Homo sapiens: one gene and its partner. The protein of the gene in region 1 binds, or shares a complex with, the protein of each later gene. Links are inferred from orthologs where the notes say so. Each region holds a gene or a part of one and is shown on either strand. Other genes may lie near its edges. The genes, in order: QTRT2 and QTRT1.

Region 1 (8,507 bases):
GTGGGTCGCACTGGAAGTGTTAGGACAGGTACGGTGTTGCCAGAAGTGCAGGGAATCTTTGTTAGTCCTTGTAAAGGTACAGATCCACTGACAGCCTGTCATTTGTCTTTACACTCTTAAGGGTTTTTCCTTAAGACTTTCTCAGGAATGCCATCTGTGACACCAGAAATATTAGAGCAGACCCACAACAAGTGAAAAGGGAAGGGATCATGATAAAGGCAAATAAAAACTAGTTAGTATTTTGGAGACTGTTGATCTGTTTCTTGAACTTTCCTTGGCAAAAAAGGAAATAATCACTCTCAAAGCATGTTTTTAAAAATATGTACATGAATATGTGTATGTGTGTGTACTATTTTATTACTTCATAGTAACAATTTATTGTATTTGAGCCTCTAGAAAAGAAGTGTAATTATAAAAAACATTTACCATAACCTGAACAATGAATGAAGAAAGGAAGACTTGGTTCTTCTAGCTCTGGACAAAATTCCATTTTTTTAAAAAAAATATTGATTTCCAGCTGAAGTATAGTACATCTCTGATGTTTTCCTCAGATTTTAAAATATTTGCATTCATCCCCACAAAACAGAATCACTGACCATGGCAGTTTATTTTAATACTTTTTCTTAAACCCAGTCATCTGCTTTTGCTTCCTTATTTTTCTCTTCGTTAATATGTTGAGTTACTGTGATTAGGGTGGAACTTTTATGAAGCCCCAAACAACAGAAGTGAGTATGTAGCACCAAAATCGTTCACTGTAGAGAAAGCCAAGTAGGTATTTCTCTCCAGCTGGCTGAGTGGGTTCAGTATTCTAAGCTGAGGATTTTGAATTTCATCTTTAAAGTTATTTGGGATTAAAGCATTATATCACAGGAGAGCCCATCTCTGCCTCTAAGAACATGGTGGCCAATGTCCTTTAGAGTTACAAAGGACCTCTAATTACAGACTTTCAGTTAAGAATCAAGAAAGTTGTTTCTTCAGTTGAGGAAAGAGTGGGAAGGGGAGATGAGAGGGAAGGGGAGATGAGAAAGAAGAGAGAAGATGCCTTCAGGACTGAGTGGATGATTAATCACACTTGAGACTCGTTTGTTAAAAGATGGGAACTTCTAGAATATGTTCATTCTTTCCTTACACAAGGATGAAACTAAGAAGTCTTTGAGAGAAAGGTAAGTCTTGGAAGCCAATGGTCTGGGCTTCCAGGTCTGGCTGCCTTTATACTCTTAGAGAATCCTTGTGTCCAACCTTGGAGAATCTGAGATTGGTTGTTTGGTCATCTTCGCTTATCTGTGGGGAATATGTTCCAAGACCCCTTGTGGATGCTGGAAACTGCAAATGGTTCCAAACCCCAGATAGATAGGTAGGTAGGTAGGTAGGTAGGTAGATAGATAGATAGATAGATAGATAGATAGATAGATAGATAGATAGATAAGATAGATTAGATAGATAGATTAGATAGATCCAAACCCTAAATAGATAGACAGACAATAGACAGACAGTATGATGTTTCCTATCTATACATACCTATAATAAAGTTTAATTTATTAATTAGGCACAGTAGTAGATGTTAGTCACCTCGGCAAACAGTCTTTTTTCTTTTCCTAGTTGGAGAACTTTAACCTTTTCTCATAAGGGATCACTTTATGGCTTCCCTTTGGCATATCCGTATTGCCAGCATCACAACTCTTGTGCTGTGGGGCCAGTCGTAAGTAAAATAAGGGTAACTTGAACATAAGCACTGCAATACAGTGACGGTTGATCTGATCAATGTGACAGCTCCTAAGTAACTAAGGGGCGAGTGGCGTCTACAGTGTGAAGATGCTGGGCAAAGGGATGATTCACGTCCTGGGTGGAACAGAGCAAAATGGTGAGAGATTTCATTATGCTACTCAGAATGGCATGCAATTTCAAACTTATGTTTATTTCAGGAATTTTCCGTTTAATATGTTTGGACCTCGGATGTCCATGGGTAACTGAAACTGGAAAGCAGAACTGTGAATGGGGGTACTGTGTTAAGAAAACCGATGGGTTTCCTTTTAGTTGCCTTTATGTACCTTCTTCTTCCCATTCTGATTCTATGCTTGCATGGCATATTTGGCTTCATGTATTGCATTCTATAGGGCAAACATGCCACTGACTGATCCACTTTGCTTTTTTCGATTCTCAGAGTAAATAATTGTGCATACTGATTTTATTGTTTAGTCTCTGAGGTTGATAGGTTTGAGCCTGACCCTGAGTGATGGCTCTGTGCTGGGTATATAGAAAAGATCAGGCTCAGCTTACCAGGCAGAAGCCTAAATCCCTTACCAGTGGCCAGCCAGCCCTCCAAGCAGTACAAGACTGTAAGGCACTGGAGGGAGCAGCAGCAGGTGGCTAATCTTTGAGCCCCTGTGTAATTCTGTTGGCACAGGTTAAAGAACTTGACAGCTGCTTTCTTTTATCTCTTTTCTTTCTCTTTCTTTTCTTCTTCTTTGTTTTTAAGACAGGATCTCCCTCTGTTGCCCAGGCTGGAGTGCCAGTGGCGTGATCATGGCTCACTGCAGTCTCTGCCTCCCTGGCTTAAGGGATCTTCCTACCTCAGATTCCCAAGTAGCTAGGACTACAGGTGCATGCCACCATTCCTGGCTAGTTTTTGTATTTTTTGTAGAGACAGGGTTTCATTGTGTTGCCCAGGCTGCTCTTGAACTCCTGGGCTCAAGCGATCTGCCCACCTTGGCCTCCCAAACTGCTGGAATTACAGGCGTGAGCCAATGTGCCCAACCAAAGCCACTTTCTTTTTATGACTTTCCACAGTGTGTTCTAGGGGAAAAAAACAAAAAGATGTTTCATAGATTTCACATATACTTTTGAAAAATCTTGTTATTTTCAGTGGCCATGGTATGCTGCAGGATATTCTAAAAAAAAAAAAAAAAAAATCTGAATGCATCTCCTAGCATGTTAAATTTACTCTCACATAAAAGCCATAATTGGATGGGTGCAGTGGCTCACGCCTGTAATCCCAACACTTTGGGAGGTCAAGGCAGGAGGATCACTTGAGCGCAGGAGTTTGAGACCAGCCTGGGCAACGTAGTGAGACTCCATCTCTCCAAAAAAAGTTTTTTAATTAGTTAGGTGCAGTGGTTGGGCACCTGTGGTCTCAGCTACTTAGGAGGCTGAGGTGGGAAGGTTACTTGAGCCTGGGATGTCAAGGCTACAGTAAGCCGTGATTACACCACTGCACTCCAGCCTGGGCAATAGAGTGAGACCTTGTCTCAAAAAAAAAAAAAAAAAAAAAAAGAATAAAAAGAATACAGGCCTTTTGCAGGAGGCCCAGGTTCTAGACAAGCCTATGACTAAGCAGGCCTAGTCTCAGACTGATTACAATAAAATGGCAGAAGGGGTGATGTGGTGATGAGGAATTCCCAGGTAGGGGTCTCTGGTAGTAATGGAACTCTATAAACTATTTTCAGTATTTCTAAAGTCTAATGGTAATTATACAATACTGGGATATTAAGCACAGTTTTACTAAAGCAATGGGGTTTGTTGTTTTTACCTGGAATTCAGTTAACACAACATGGAAAAGCAGATTATCTCATGCTTGTCAGAAGCTTTGGTTGTCAGTCATTTGTGTCATTTATTAATAAACTGGAGAAACGAGAGCATAAATTTGATGAGGAGAGATAATAAAAGTAACATTCTAGAATCCTATACTTCATTTTTCAAACGTATTAGTTTTACCCAATGAAGGTTCTTCGTGCCTTTATATGAATTTAATTTAAAAAACACTGTTCATGTGTGTACATTTAAACTCTTTACATACTTTACACAGCTCAGATGAGAGAGTATTTTTGGAGTAAGATAGAATTTTTGGAGGAGCCAGCAAGTTCTTGTCTCTAGCCCTTTCTGAAATAGCTTCGGGCAACACAGTTTCTTCCGTTCTCAGACGTATGTGATAGTAGGAAATGCGTAAGTTACTGCAGCATTTAAAAATTCTGGTCCGTTTAATTTTCATTAGTTCTTATTTGTGTTTCAAGAAATCTAGTGTTCCATATTGGTTGATTTCAATATTCAGTCAGAACAACAGGTATTGATTCATGAAGCTTTGAAGTACATTTCTCATCTTTGTGCTTCCCCCTGCTTCAATTCTCCAGAGCTACTTAGATTACAAAAGTCTGTCTTAAATTTCACATTAGAACTCTGTTGGTTTAAAATATAAAATACATTTTTATCACTTGAAATCAGTATTATCTGATAAATAAATAAAGATTACAATTCTTTTATATTTTCTACAGTATGCTTTTATTAGCTTATAAGTATAGTTTTACAGTTTTCTTAAATGAACCTTCTTGTTTTAGCAGTTTTAATGTGTAACAATAGGGTATGTAAAAAAATAGCTTTTATACTATTTATTAAAATATAACCTTTTTTTCCTTACCAGTCTCCATTTATGTGGGTTCTAATGACACTTATTTGTATGTTTCTATCTTAGTGATAACTTGAAATAATGATCTCATAGTTATAGAAAATTGACCAGGCTTTCATCAAACACTTATATTAGTTTTTATAATTTGTGTTTAGCATAAAATCTCTTCTTAGACCATATAGAAAGTAGTTATTCTTTTTTTTTAAGAAAGTAGTTATTCTTATGTCTAAGATTCTAATGACAAAGATGGCTATTTTATTTAAATTTAAGAATTTATGTCTCCTAAAAAAAAGTAATGTTTTTATTCTTGAATATATTTAACTAATGATAGATATGTCTTATTTATTTGGTGACATTTTAACAATGGTTGACTTTCAGAGTATGGTATGCTATAATGCTTAAGAAAATGGGATCTGGCCGGGCACAGTGGCTCATGCTTGTTACCTCAGCACTTTGGGAGGCTGAGGTGGGCGGATCACCTGAGGTCAGGAGTTCGAGACCAGCCTGGCCAACATGGTGAAACCCCATTTCTACTACAAATACAAAAGTCATCTGGGCATGGCGGCACACACCTGTAATCTCAACTACTTGGGAGGCTGAGGCAGGAGAATCTCTTGAACCCGAGAAGCAGAGGTTACAGTGAGCTGAGATCGCTTCACTGCACTCCAGCCTGGGTGACAGAGCGAGATTCTGTGTCCAAAAAAAAATGAAAGAGAGAAAAGAAAAGAAAATTGGATCCTCTCTGATAGCTCATTTGTCAACTAATAAAACTGGGCCTGGCCCAGTTTTTAAGAATTCCAGAAGATATGGTACTTGCTGTAGAGATGTAATGAAGTATTTGTAAAATGTTGGTATGTCTGGTGACATTTAGCCGATGATGTGTGTGCTTATCAAGTTCTGTAGTGCATTTTAAAAGTGGAACCCAGTATTTTGCTTCACTGAATACTAAATCATTTAGGAGCACCCAACAAGTAATTGATAATGTTTTCTGATTTTTTTTCCCTGTATATCTATAGAAGTTAGAAAGTGTATCTTTATTTTTTTCTTTAAACACATATTAGTCTTTCCCAGTTATAAAAGTAATGACACTTTGCTTATGGATTGCGTGTATGCTCCACACAGTTTCTCACTTCTGTTTGGATACCATATAAGAACAAATTGGGAAATAATCCGACCTCAGAGATCTGTTTATGTTTTGACATTTATTTTTCCATATATTTTCATAAACACCAGGATGCTCTTTTCTTCACTTAACAGCATTATTAGGAAAAAATTGCTATATTGCTTAGCCTTCCCTCAAATTGGAGAAAGAAAAAAGTGGATTATATCAATAATCAGTATGGCCTAAGCAGTGTTACTGTTCTCTGTATACATTTTCAAGGCTGAGAGAGCCTTGGCTTCATGGCATTCTTTCCATGATTAGTCTTTCTAATTCTGTTCTTTCATTTGTTTGGTTTTCATCAGCTCAGACAAAAATTCCATGACTAAATTTAAAATTAGTTGATGCCAATATGTGGTTCTGGGACCTTAGGGAAGATGTCTTATTCTCTTTATGTCTTTTCCCATTCCCCCGTTCCTGATATCTATGAAAATATTTAGACTGGAAGCAGTAATAAGCATGCTATCATTCATTTTCCTGAAGATTTTTTTTTTTTGCAAAATGCTTGGCCTCTAGGTGTTGTGAAGCTCCTTCTATACTTAATGCTCTTTTCTTGACAGGACCTAGAAGAATCCCTTAGGATGAAGCTGAGTCTTACCAAGGTAGTTAATGGCTGTCGCCTAGGAAAAATAAAAAACCTGGGCAAAACAGGGGACCACACCATGGATATTCCAGGCTGCCTTCTGTATACCAAGACTGGCTCCGCCCCACACCTCACCCATCACACGCTGCATAATATCCACGGGGTTCCTGCCATGGCTCAGCTTACGCTGTCATCCCTGTAAGTGTTAGAACCAATGATTCAAGTATCAACTGTGGCAGCAGCTTAGTTACCTTAGGTGCAAAAAAGAGAAATATTTTTTTTTGTTCATATATATAAATTGTCGATTTTCATAATGAAATCAGAAGAGAGGTTTCAAATATTATACATCTTCTGGCCCTAATCTGGAAGCCACAGGCCAGACCTATATGTTAGATCTGCTTCACTTTTCCTCCAAACCTACAGTCCCATACTGCCATGTCGCCACTGCTCCCAGGGGTGACAGGGCGGGGAATGTTCTGTGAGAGCTGCATTTGGAGTTCAGGAGCTGTTATCATGCACCAGCCTCAAAGTTTTTTCTGCCTTTGCACATATACTTGCTAATACTACTTTATGGAAACAGAACTAAAGTTAGATCATTTTGTGTAATGTATATACTGACTTTATACTTAATTGAAAAGCCTACTATATGACCAATTAACATAATAGTCTGCAGCGTTGTGTTAACAACAGAGATTTTAAAGGGGCAAGAGAAGGAAGAAAATTCAAGTATTCTGAAGGAGTTGATCTTTGCCAGTTTCATGTCTCACAGAACCACTAGCAAGTTGAAGGCCTTCGTTCTGGCTAATGAACCTAGCCTAATTAGTTAGAACTCTTGAATAATGGTGTAATTCAAGACAGCATTTACCATGATGTAACTTATTTGGGTGAGGAGAAGAGGGCTCCAGTTGTACAGAGTATTTACAGAATGACACATTATTATGTTATGTATTTTTCTGTTTTGCTTACAGAGCAGAACATCATGAAGTCTTGACAGAATATAAAGAAGGAGTTGGAAAGTTTATAGGTAAAAATTAAGTTACTTATATGTGCCTTGTGATGTGTTAATTTGGAGTTTGGAGGTGCTGTTACCTCTTTGATCTTTCATTCATATGTTTGTTTATTCATAAATTTAATAAGTATTATTTGAACATCTAAGAGCCAGGCATTGGCAAGTCAAGATTGAATAGGAAACAGTTGCTGCTCTCATGGAATTTGGAGCCTAGCTGGGATAAAGATAGAGAATTCTAGTAAAAATTGTGGTTACTGCTTTACAGGATTAGGGATATGTATGGATATCATGACAGGCCAGAGGGCAGAGCATATAACCTGCTCTAGGGTATATGTGCAAGGTGGTCAGAATAAAAAACGGATTCTTTTTTTTGTTTACGCCTCCATAAAAACCCAGAGAAAGGATTCTTGAGAGAGAAGTTGAGGGGCATTTTAGCTGGGTCAAGGAAGAGTAAAAGTTACCCAGGTTAGGAGTGGGAGCCCAGACAGGTGTGGGGCAGATGCTGCAGGCACTGAGTATCTGACTCAGCGGTGAGAACTTGCATGGGGCATTCGTGAGCTCCAAAGTAGTCTCATCATGCTTGAACCTCAAACATGCAGGGGAGGATGAAGCGTTTGTATATGGCTGTATTCTGATATGTTAATATTATCCTTTATTCCAGAAATAGGATTTTATATGCAGATGTATGCATCTATTTATTTATAGGAAAAGCTTAGCAGTGACAGCTAGAACATCAGTTCTTCTATACACCGCTTTCTCCTAACGCTTTTTCTGGTATCTAGGACTCACTTGAATGAAAATCCTGTTTCCATTGGTTATTCAGTCTTCTGCTTCTGAGAGCAGCTGCATGATGTCCTGTTGGTTATCACAAAGCCCTGTATTTTAGTAGAGGAATTTATGGAATATCATTCTCCTTGACCTGAGCCCAATTTTAATAACCAGCTTTAAAGTATACAAGCATATAATTAAATGAAAATAGCTAATGTAGGCTTTCTAGAGATAATTGTAATAATTGAAATTATGGAAAATAAAGTGAAAAAACTGCAGAGGTTTTACACTTGCTTTTTTTTCACTGGAATCCTGTTTTATTTTCCTTAACGAAAATGTGGGCTAGCATATGATATTTAGGCACATGGTTTACTAAACTTTTTTTGCATTTTTTAAAAAATGATTGTCTTTTTGACTGAAGAACTTAAGAAACTGTCATCGTGAATCAATGAAACTTACTAAGAATGGGATCCATTTGCAGCATCCTATAGCTTCTCTAAAATTCTGCCCCTAGGGACCCATGATATTATTGAGATTTATTATTAGTGAGATCACTTTGTGGGCATATCATTTTATCTTTGCGGTAGCTAGT
Region 2 (8,365 bases), on another chromosome or scaffold:
TCCTGTCCCTAGTGTTTTCGAGCCCAAGGGCCTGTTTCTCCTTATCATTGGCTTTTTTCTTTTTCTTTTTCTTTTTTTTTTTTTTTTTGAGACGGAGTTTCACTCTTCTTGCCCAGGCTGGAGTGCAATGGCACGATCTCGGATCACCACAACCTCCATCTCCCAGGTTCAACCAATTCTCCTTCCTCAGCCTCCTTAGTATCTGGGATTATAGGTATATGCCACCATGCCCGGCTAATTTTGTATTTTTAGTAGAGATGGGGTTTCTCCATGTTGGCCAGGCTGGTCTCAAACTCCCGACCTCAGGTGATCCGCCCGCCTCAGCCTCCCAAAGTGCTGGGATTACAAGTGTGAGCCACTGTGCCCGGCCACCACCACTGGCTTTTGATCCAAATTGTGAATGGCAGAACCTGAGCCTTGTGCAGCCTGGCTGCAGGGCAGGCTGGGAAAGTAACTGTCAATTATAACTTCTATGGAAAGGCAGGCTTAGCCTTAAAAAATATGACATTCTCTCAATGCAGGGGTGTATGAGCGGGGTCAGGTGTTAGGTGGCCAAGAAAAGAAGGGGCTATACTAGCTTCAGAACAGCAAATCCAGGCAACCCTTAATCCAATCAGCCATTCATCCAATCATGGTGATTGCATTCTAAAATGCAGAGGATTCCCTCCAACATCCCAGAAGCTTTGGATAACCAAGAATTGCAGGCAGGTCAGAGCTCCAAGATAAGGTCACCCAGAAAAGAAAGAGACTCACTTTGGATAAGATAATGAAATGCTGTTTTTGGAACCTAAACCACTGAGAGGCAACATTGGCTGCACACAGAAATTCCTTGAGGCTTAAAACAAAAAACAAAAGAAAATTGATGACTGAGTCTCATCCCCATAGATTTTTTTTTTTAAGAGATGATCGGCCAGGTGCAGTGGATCACACCTGTAACCCCAGCACTTTGGGAGACTGAGGCAGGTGGATCACCTGAGGTCAGGAGTTCGAGACCAACCTGGCCAACATTGCAAAACCCTGTCTCTACTAAAAATACAAAAAATTAGCTGGGCATGGTGGTGGGCGCCTGTAATCCCAGCTACTTTAGGAGGCTGAGGCAGGAGAATTTCTTGAACCCGGGAGGTGGAGGTTGCAGTGAGCCGAGATCGCACCATTGCACCCTAGCCTGGGCGACTCTAATTTCTGGCCTCAAGCAATCCTCCTACTTCATCGTCCCAAAGTACATAAGCTACTCACCATAGATTTTAGTTTAAGTTGTCTGGGCATAGAGATAGTTAAAAACTCCACAGGTAATTCTATGTGCAGCCAAGAGTGAAAAACAGTGGTTCTGAAACGAGTGGGCATCAGAATAACACAGAAAGCTTGGCAAGAAGCAGACTTAAACACATATTGGCCAGGCGCTGTGGCAATCCTCCTGCTTCAGTCTCCCAAGTAACTGGAATTATGGGTAATTTTTTAACTTTTTTTTTTTTTTTTTTTTTGCCATGTTGCCCAGGCTGGTCTCTAACTCGTGGGCTCATATGATCCACCCACCTTGGCCTCCCAAAGTGCTGGAATTACAGGCGTGAGCCACTGCGCCTGGTAAACATTTTGAAAAATAGAAATATTAGCTGGGCACGGTGGCTCACACCTGTATCCTAGCACTTTGGGAGGCCTAGATGGGTGGATCGCTTGAGGTCAGGAGTTTGAGACCAGCCTGGCCATCATGGTGAAACCTTATCTCTACTAAAAACAAAAATTAGCCGGACGCGGTGGCTCACACCTGTAATCCCAGCACTTTGGGAGGCCAAGGTGGGAGGATCACCTGAGGTCAGGAGTTCGAGACCAGACTGGCCAATATGGAGAAACCCTGTCGCTACTAAAAATACAAAAAAATTAGCCAGGCGTGGTGGCGTATGCCTGTAATCCCAGCTACTCAGGAGGCTGAGGCAGGAGAATCACTTGAACCCAGGAGGTGGAGGTTGTAGTGAGCCAAGATTGCACTATTGCACTCTCCAGCCTGGGCAACAAGAGCAAAACTCCGTCTCAAAAAAAAAAAAAACAAAAAACGGCCGAGTGCGGTGGCTCACGCCTGTAATCCCAGCACTTTGGGAGGCCAAGGCAGGTGGATCACCAGGTCAGGAGATCAAGACCATCCTGGCTAACATGGTGAACACCGGTCTCTACTAAAAATACAAAAAATTAGCTGGGCGTGGTGGCAGGCGCCTGTAGTCCCAGCTACTCAGGAGGCTGAGGCAGGAAAATGGCGTGGACCTGGCAGGCAGAGCTTTCAGTGAGCAGAGATTGTGCCACTGCACTCCAGCCTGGGAAGCAGAGCAAGACTCCATCTCAAAAATAAAAAAAAAATTAGCCGGGTGTGGCAGCAGGCACCTGTAATCCCGGTTGCTTGGGAGGCTGACGTAGGAGAATCGCTTGAACCTGAGAGGCGGAGGTTGCAGTGAGCTGAGACTGTGCCACTACACTCCAGCCTGGGCAACAGAGTGAGATTCTGTCTCAAAAAAAAAAAAGAAGAAAAGAAAAGAAAGAAAAGAAATAGAAAAGAAAGGATGAGTGTTGTAGACAAAGGCAGGTGCAAAGGCCCTGAGGTTGGCTTGCTGGTGGGCAGGGGTGTTTTCCAGGCGGGTTTTCCGGGTGTGGCCTTACTAAGGATGCCCCACCATCTGGGCAACCGGCATCCTTAGCCTTTCTTACAGGATAGGGGGCTTGAGGCTCCCTTAGACACCCTCTTGGCCAGAGTAGCTCAGTTTAAGACAATTGAAAGGACATCTTCTGGGACAATAGCGCTCTCTGCTGGCCAGGACAGATATCAGATCCAGTTGTAATGATAACAATTACTATATAATATTGTATATTATTATTATCTTTTTTTTTAGGGTTTCGGTCTCACTCTGTTGCCCAGCCTGGTGTACAGTAGCCCAATCATAGCTCACTGCAGCCTCCAACTCTTCAGCTCAAGTGATCCTCCTGCCTCAGCTTCTTGAGTAGCTGAGACTACAGGGGCGTGCCACCACACCATGTTAATGTTTTTGTTTTGATTTTGTTTTTGTTTTTGTTTTTTAGATGAAGTCTCGCTTTGTCGCCCAGGCTGGAGTGCAGTGGCGCAATCGTGGCTCGACCTCCGCCTCCCGGGTTCAAGCGATTCTCCTGCCTCAGCCTCCCGAATAGCTGGGACTACAGGCACGCACCCCCACGCCCGGCTAATTTTTGTATTTTTTTAGTAGAGACGGGGTTTCACCATACTGGCCAGGCTGGTCTTGAACTCCTGACATCGTGATCCGCCCGCCTTGGCCTCCCAAAGTGCTGGGATTACAGGCGTGAGCCACCGTGCCTGGCTCACAACCTGTTAATTTTTTAATTTTTAAAACTTTTTTTTCTTTTTGACACAGAGTTTTGCTCCTGTTACCCAGGCTGGGGTGCAATGGCACGATCTCGGCTCACTGCAAACTCCGCCTCCCAGGTTCAAGCAATTATCCTGCCTCAGCCTTCGGAGTAGCTGGGATTACAGGCATGCACCACCATGCCTGGCTAATTTTGTATTTTTAGTAGAGACGGGGTTTCTCCACATTGGTCAGGCTGGTCTCGAACTCCCAACATCAGGTCATCCGCCCGCCTCAGCCTCTCAAAGCGCTGGGATTACAGGCGTGAGCCACCGCACCCAGCCACACCAGCTTAATTTTTTTTTTTTTTTTTTTTTTGAGATGGAGTCTCGCTCTGTCACCCAGGCTGGAGTGCAGTGGCACGATCTCGGCTCACTGCAAGCTCTGCCTCCCAGGTTCACGCCATTCTCCTGCCTCGGCCTCCGGAGTAGCTGGGACTACAGGTGCCTGCCACTGCGCCCGGCTAATTTTTTGTATTTTTAGTAGAGACGGGGTTTCACTGTGTTAGCCAGGATGGTCTCCATCCCATGACCTCGTGATCCTCCCTCCTCGGCCTCCCAAAGTGCTGGGATTACAGGCGTGAGCCACCACCCCCGGCCCTTTATTCAATCTTTACAAAGTCTTTATGCCGAGATGCTGTAATTCGCCACATTTTATCCAAGAGAAAATTATGGCTAAGAGAGTCTCTGATTGTAGCTCGAAAGTGCTAGGGATGGGATTCGTTCCCAGTTCAATTCTGATTCTTCGCTTTAGCGTGTTGTGGGTAGGAGTTAAATGGGCCCCCAGCCAGGACCAGGGGTTCAAATCCGTTGCCATGGTCCCCCGACGCTTTCCCGGGCTCCAGAACGGATCGCGTGGTCACGTGACAGCGGCCAACATGGCGCCGCCCACTGTGTGGTACGGCCCACGTGGTTCCGACAGTCAAGATGGCGGGAGCAGCTACCCAGGCTTCCCTGGAGTCGGCCCCACGGATCATGCGGCTGGTGGCCGAATGCAGCCGCTCCAGGGCCCGGGCAGGCGAGCTGTGGCTGCCGCATGGGACAGTGGCCACTCCTGTGTTCATGCCAGTGGGCACGCAGGCCACCATGAAGGGCATCACGACCGAACAGCTGGACGCTCTGGGTTGCCGCATCTGCCTGGGCAATACCTACCATCTGGGTCTAAGGCCGGTGGGTGGGCTCTGCCCGCGCGGGGAGGCGGCGAGGCGGCGAGGCGTGGGGAGCCATGGAGCGTCCTCCAGGCCCGGACACTCCTCCCAAAGTCAATCGACCAGCTGTATTGAGCGCCCCCAATGACCAGGCCTTGTACTGGGCGTGAAAGAGCAGCAGGGACTAAAGCTGGCCAGATCTGTCTCCCAAGAAGGGCCCCCAGGGACGCGGTCACCCCTAACCTGACACTTTCTTCCATCAACCCAGGGACCCGAGCTGATCCAGAAAGCCAACGGTCTCCACGGCTTCATGAATTGGCCTCATAATCTGCTAACGGTGAGCTGAGGAGAGAGCCGACGTTCTAGGGCCCTTCTCTGGAGTGAAGGGTCCCCATCTCCACCCCCTGACAGCTTTGCGGTGGGGTTTCCCTTAGGACAGCGGCGGTTTCCAGATGGTGTCGCTGGTGTCTCTGTCCGAGGTGACGGAGGAGGGCGTCCGCTTCCGCTCCCCCTACGACGGCAATGAGACCCTGCTGAGCCCGGAGAAATCCGTGCAGATCCAGAATGCGCTGGGTGAGAGGACCCTGGGGAGCCGCCTCCTTACCCTGTCTGTCAGGGGGTGAAGTTTACACGGGGCCTGTTTTTTAGCTGTTGTGTGGCTTTGAGCAGGTCACTCCTCGCTGAGCTTCAGTTGAACCAACTCAAAGCGGGGGTAAATAGTAGCAGGTCTTTGGTAGAATTGTTGACAAGTACATATGAGATGATGTCAGTAAATCTCCATCCCAGCCATGTAGTAGCTTAAGTATTATTATTGCAGTTTTTCTCTCATTAGCAAATTAAGACTGGACGTGGAAGCTCATGCCTGTAATCCCAGCAATTTGGGAAACTGAGGCGGGAAGATCACTTGAGGCCGGGAGTTGGAGACCAGCTTGGGCAATACAGGGAGACCCTGTCTCTACCAAAATAAAAAATAAAAAATAAAAAAAACAAATTAATTGGACAAATATCTGTTGAAATAATGGTGGCAACAAGAGGATTGGGGAGGCTTTAGGCTTCTCCCATATCCTCAATATCCTTCTTTTTTTTTTTTTTTTTTTTTTTTTTTGAGACAGAATTTTGCTCTTGTTGCCCAGGCTGGAGTGCAATTTTGCGATCTGAGCTCACTGCAACCTCTGCCTCCCGGGTTCAAGTGATTCTCCTGACTCAGCCTCCCGAGTAGCTGGGATTACAGGTGTGCGCCACCACACCTGGCTAATTTTGTATTTTTAGTAGAGACAGGGTTTCTCCATGTTGGTTAGGCTACTCTCAAACTCCTGAGCTCAGGTGATCCGCCTGCCTCGGCCTCCCAGAGTGCTGGGATTCCAGGCGTGAGCCACCACACCTGGCTTTTTTTTTTTTTTTTTTTTTTTGAGACAGAGTCGCCCAGGCTGGAGTGCAATGGTGTGATATCCAGTCACTGCAACCTCCACCTCCTGGGTTCAAGTGATTCTCCTGCCTCAGCCTGCTGAGTAGCTGGGATTACAACTGCTTGCCACCATGCCCAGCTAATTTTTGTATTTTTTGTAGAGACGGGTTTCACTATGTTGGCAAGGCTGGTCTCAAACTCCGGACCTCAGGTGATCCACCTGCTTCGGCCTCGCAGAGTGCTGGGATTATAGGTGTGAGCCACCACGCCTGGCCCAATATCCCCATTTCTTGATAAAGAACCATGGCAACACAGGGTCAAAACCCCTCTTCCCCTCATCATTCTAATAGATTGATGCTGTAGGGAGGAAGAAATATTTTTTCTTCTTAGATTCATGGCTGAAGCCCCTATAACAAAAACCCTTATAAGAAAAGAAGCCACGTGCTGGGTGCGGTGGCCACGCCTGTAATCCCAGCACTTTGGGAGGCGGAGGCGCGATCATGACTCACTGCAACAGCTGCCTCCTGGTTCAAGCAATTCGCCTGCCTTAGCCTCCCAAGTAGCTGGGATTACAGGTGCCCGCTACCACACCCAGCTAATTTTTGTATTTTCAGTAGAGATGGGGTTTCACCATGTTGGCCAGGCTGGTTACGAACTCCTGACCTCAAGTGATCTGCCCATCTTGGTCCCCCAAAGTGCTGGGATTACAGGTATGAGCCACTGTGCCCGGCCTATAAGTTTATTTTTTTATGTTTATTTATTTTTATGTATTATTTTGAGACAGAGTCTCACTCTGTCACCCAGGCTAGAGTACAGTGGCACAATCTCAGGTCACTGCAACCTCTGCCTCCTGGCCTCAAGCAATTCTCCTGCCTCAGCCTCCCAAGTAGCTGGGATTACAGGTGCATGCCACCACGCCCAGCTAGTTTTTTGTATTTTTAGTAGAGACAGGGTTTCGCCATGTTGGCCAGGCTGGTCTTGAACTCCTGACCTCAAGCGATCTGCCCGCCTTGGCCTCCCAAAGTGCTGGGATTACAGGTGTGAGCCACCATGCCCGGCCAAATATTTTTTGTAGAGATTAGAGTCTCACTACATTATCTGGGCTGGTCTTGAACTCCTGGCTACAAACAGTCCTTTGCCTTGACCATTCAAAGTGCTCATGTTACAAGCATGAGCCACTGTGCCAGCCCCCATGTGTTTTTTGTTTGTTTGTTTGTTTTTTCTGGAGATGGAGTCTTGCTTAGTCTCCCAGGCTGGAGTGCGGTGGCGCGATCTCGGCTCACTGCAAGCTCCGCCTCCTGGGTTCATGCCATTCTCCTGCCTCAGCCTCCGGAGTAGCTGGGACTACAGGCACCCGCCATTACGCCCAGCTAATTTTTTTGTACTTTTACTAGAGACGGGGTTTCATCGTGTTAGCCAGGATGGTCTCGATCTCCTGACCTCGTGATTCGCCCATCTCGGCCTTCCAAAGTGCTGGGATTACAGGCGTGAGCCACCGCACCCGGCCTCTTTTTTTTTGAAACCGAGTTTCGCTCTTGTTGCCCAGGCTGGAGTGCAATGGCGCAATCTCGGCTCACAGCAACCTCTGCCTCCTGGGTTCAAGCGATTCTCCTGCCTCAGCCTCCCGAGTAGCTGGGATGACAGGCATGCGCCACCATGCCCGGCTAATTTTGTATTTTTGGTAGAGACGGGGTTTCTCCATGTTGGTCAGGCTGGTCTTGAACTCCCGACCTCAGGTGATCCGCCTGCCTCAGCCTCCCAAAGTGCTGGCATTACAGGTGTGAGCCACCATGCCCAGCTAAAGTTCTAGCTTTTTAATGAATGTCGTAATTTTTTTTTTTTTTTTTGATGTGGAATCTCGCTCTGTCACCTAGGCTGGAGTGCAGTGGCTCGATCTTGGCTCACTGCAACCTCTGCTGCCCGGGTTTAAGCTATTCTCCTGCCTCAGCCTCCCCAGCAGCTGGGACTACAGGTGCCTGCCACCACGCCTGGTAATTTTTGTACTTTTAGTAGAGACGGGGTTTCACCTTGTTGGTCAGGCTGGTCTTGAACTCCTGACTTCAGGTGGTCCACCTGCCTCAGCCTCCCAAAGGGCTGGGATTACAGGCGTGAGCCACCGCACCCAGCCCCATATTTATTTTTTCGTCTTTTCTTTTTTTTTTTCTTTTTTGAGAAGGAGTCTCACTCTTTGACCAAGGCTGGAGTGCAGTGGCACTGTGTTGGCTTACTGCAACCTCTGTCTTCTGGGTTCAAGCACTTCTCCTGCTGCAGCCTCCCGAGTAGCTGGGATTACAGGTGCCCATCACCACACCTGGCTAGTTTTTATATTTTTAGTAGAGACGGGGTTTCACCATGTTGGCCAGGCCGGTCTCGAACTCCTGACCTAAGGTGATCCACCCGTCTCGGCCTCCCAAAGTGCTGGGACTACAGGCGTGA

Evidence for each region.
Region 2: the proteins of QTRT2 (region 1) and QTRT1 are in contact, whole or in part, in a crystal structure (PDB 7OVS), measured with the Mus musculus proteins. The link is inferred for Homo sapiens from one-to-one orthologs. Residues at the interface, in NP_001343258.1 of Mus musculus: Arg39, Thr40, Gly41, Ser42, Ala43, Pro44, His45, Leu46, Thr47, His48, Gln49, Thr50, Asn53, Glu70, His71, Glu73, Val74, Glu77, Tyr78, Phe85, Ile86, Gly87, Phe119, Gln342, Glu343, Phe345, Tyr355, Asn359, His360, Ala363; in NP_068688.2 of Mus musculus: Thr50, Thr53, Met54, Lys55, Gly56, Ile57, Thr58, Thr59, Glu60, Gln61, Ser64, Arg80, Pro81, Leu85, Lys88, Ala89, Phe95, Met96, Asn97, Ala307, Lys308, Phe310, Pro320, Thr324, His325, Ala328, Phe329, Ala332, Leu333, His335.

Annotation. Positions count from the first base shown.
Region 1 is NC_000003.12:114,059,122-114,067,628, forward strand, and holds part of QTRT2 (queuine tRNA-ribosyltransferase accessory subunit 2), read left to right. Parts: intron 1-6,109; exon of another isoform or gene 6,110-6,115; coding exon of another isoform or gene 6,116-6,136; coding exon 6,137-6,336; intron 6,337-7,106; coding exon 7,107-7,162; intron 7,163-8,507. UniProt on the Homo sapiens protein: Non-catalytic subunit of the queuine tRNA-ribosyltransferase (TGT) that catalyzes the base-exchange of a guanine (G) residue with queuine (Q) at position 34 (anticodon wobble position) in tRNAs with GU(N) anticodons (tRNA-Asp, -Asn, -His and -Tyr), resulting in the hypermodified nucleoside queuosine (7-(((4,5-cis-dihydroxy-2-cyclopenten-1-yl)amino)methyl)-7-deazaguanosine).
Region 2 is NC_000019.10:10,697,158-10,705,522, forward strand, and holds the start of QTRT1 (queuine tRNA-ribosyltransferase catalytic subunit 1), read left to right. Parts: upstream 1-4,281; 5' UTR 4,282-4,303; coding exon 4,304-4,546; intron 4,547-4,792; coding exon 4,793-4,861; intron 4,862-4,958; coding exon 4,959-5,097; intron 5,098-8,365.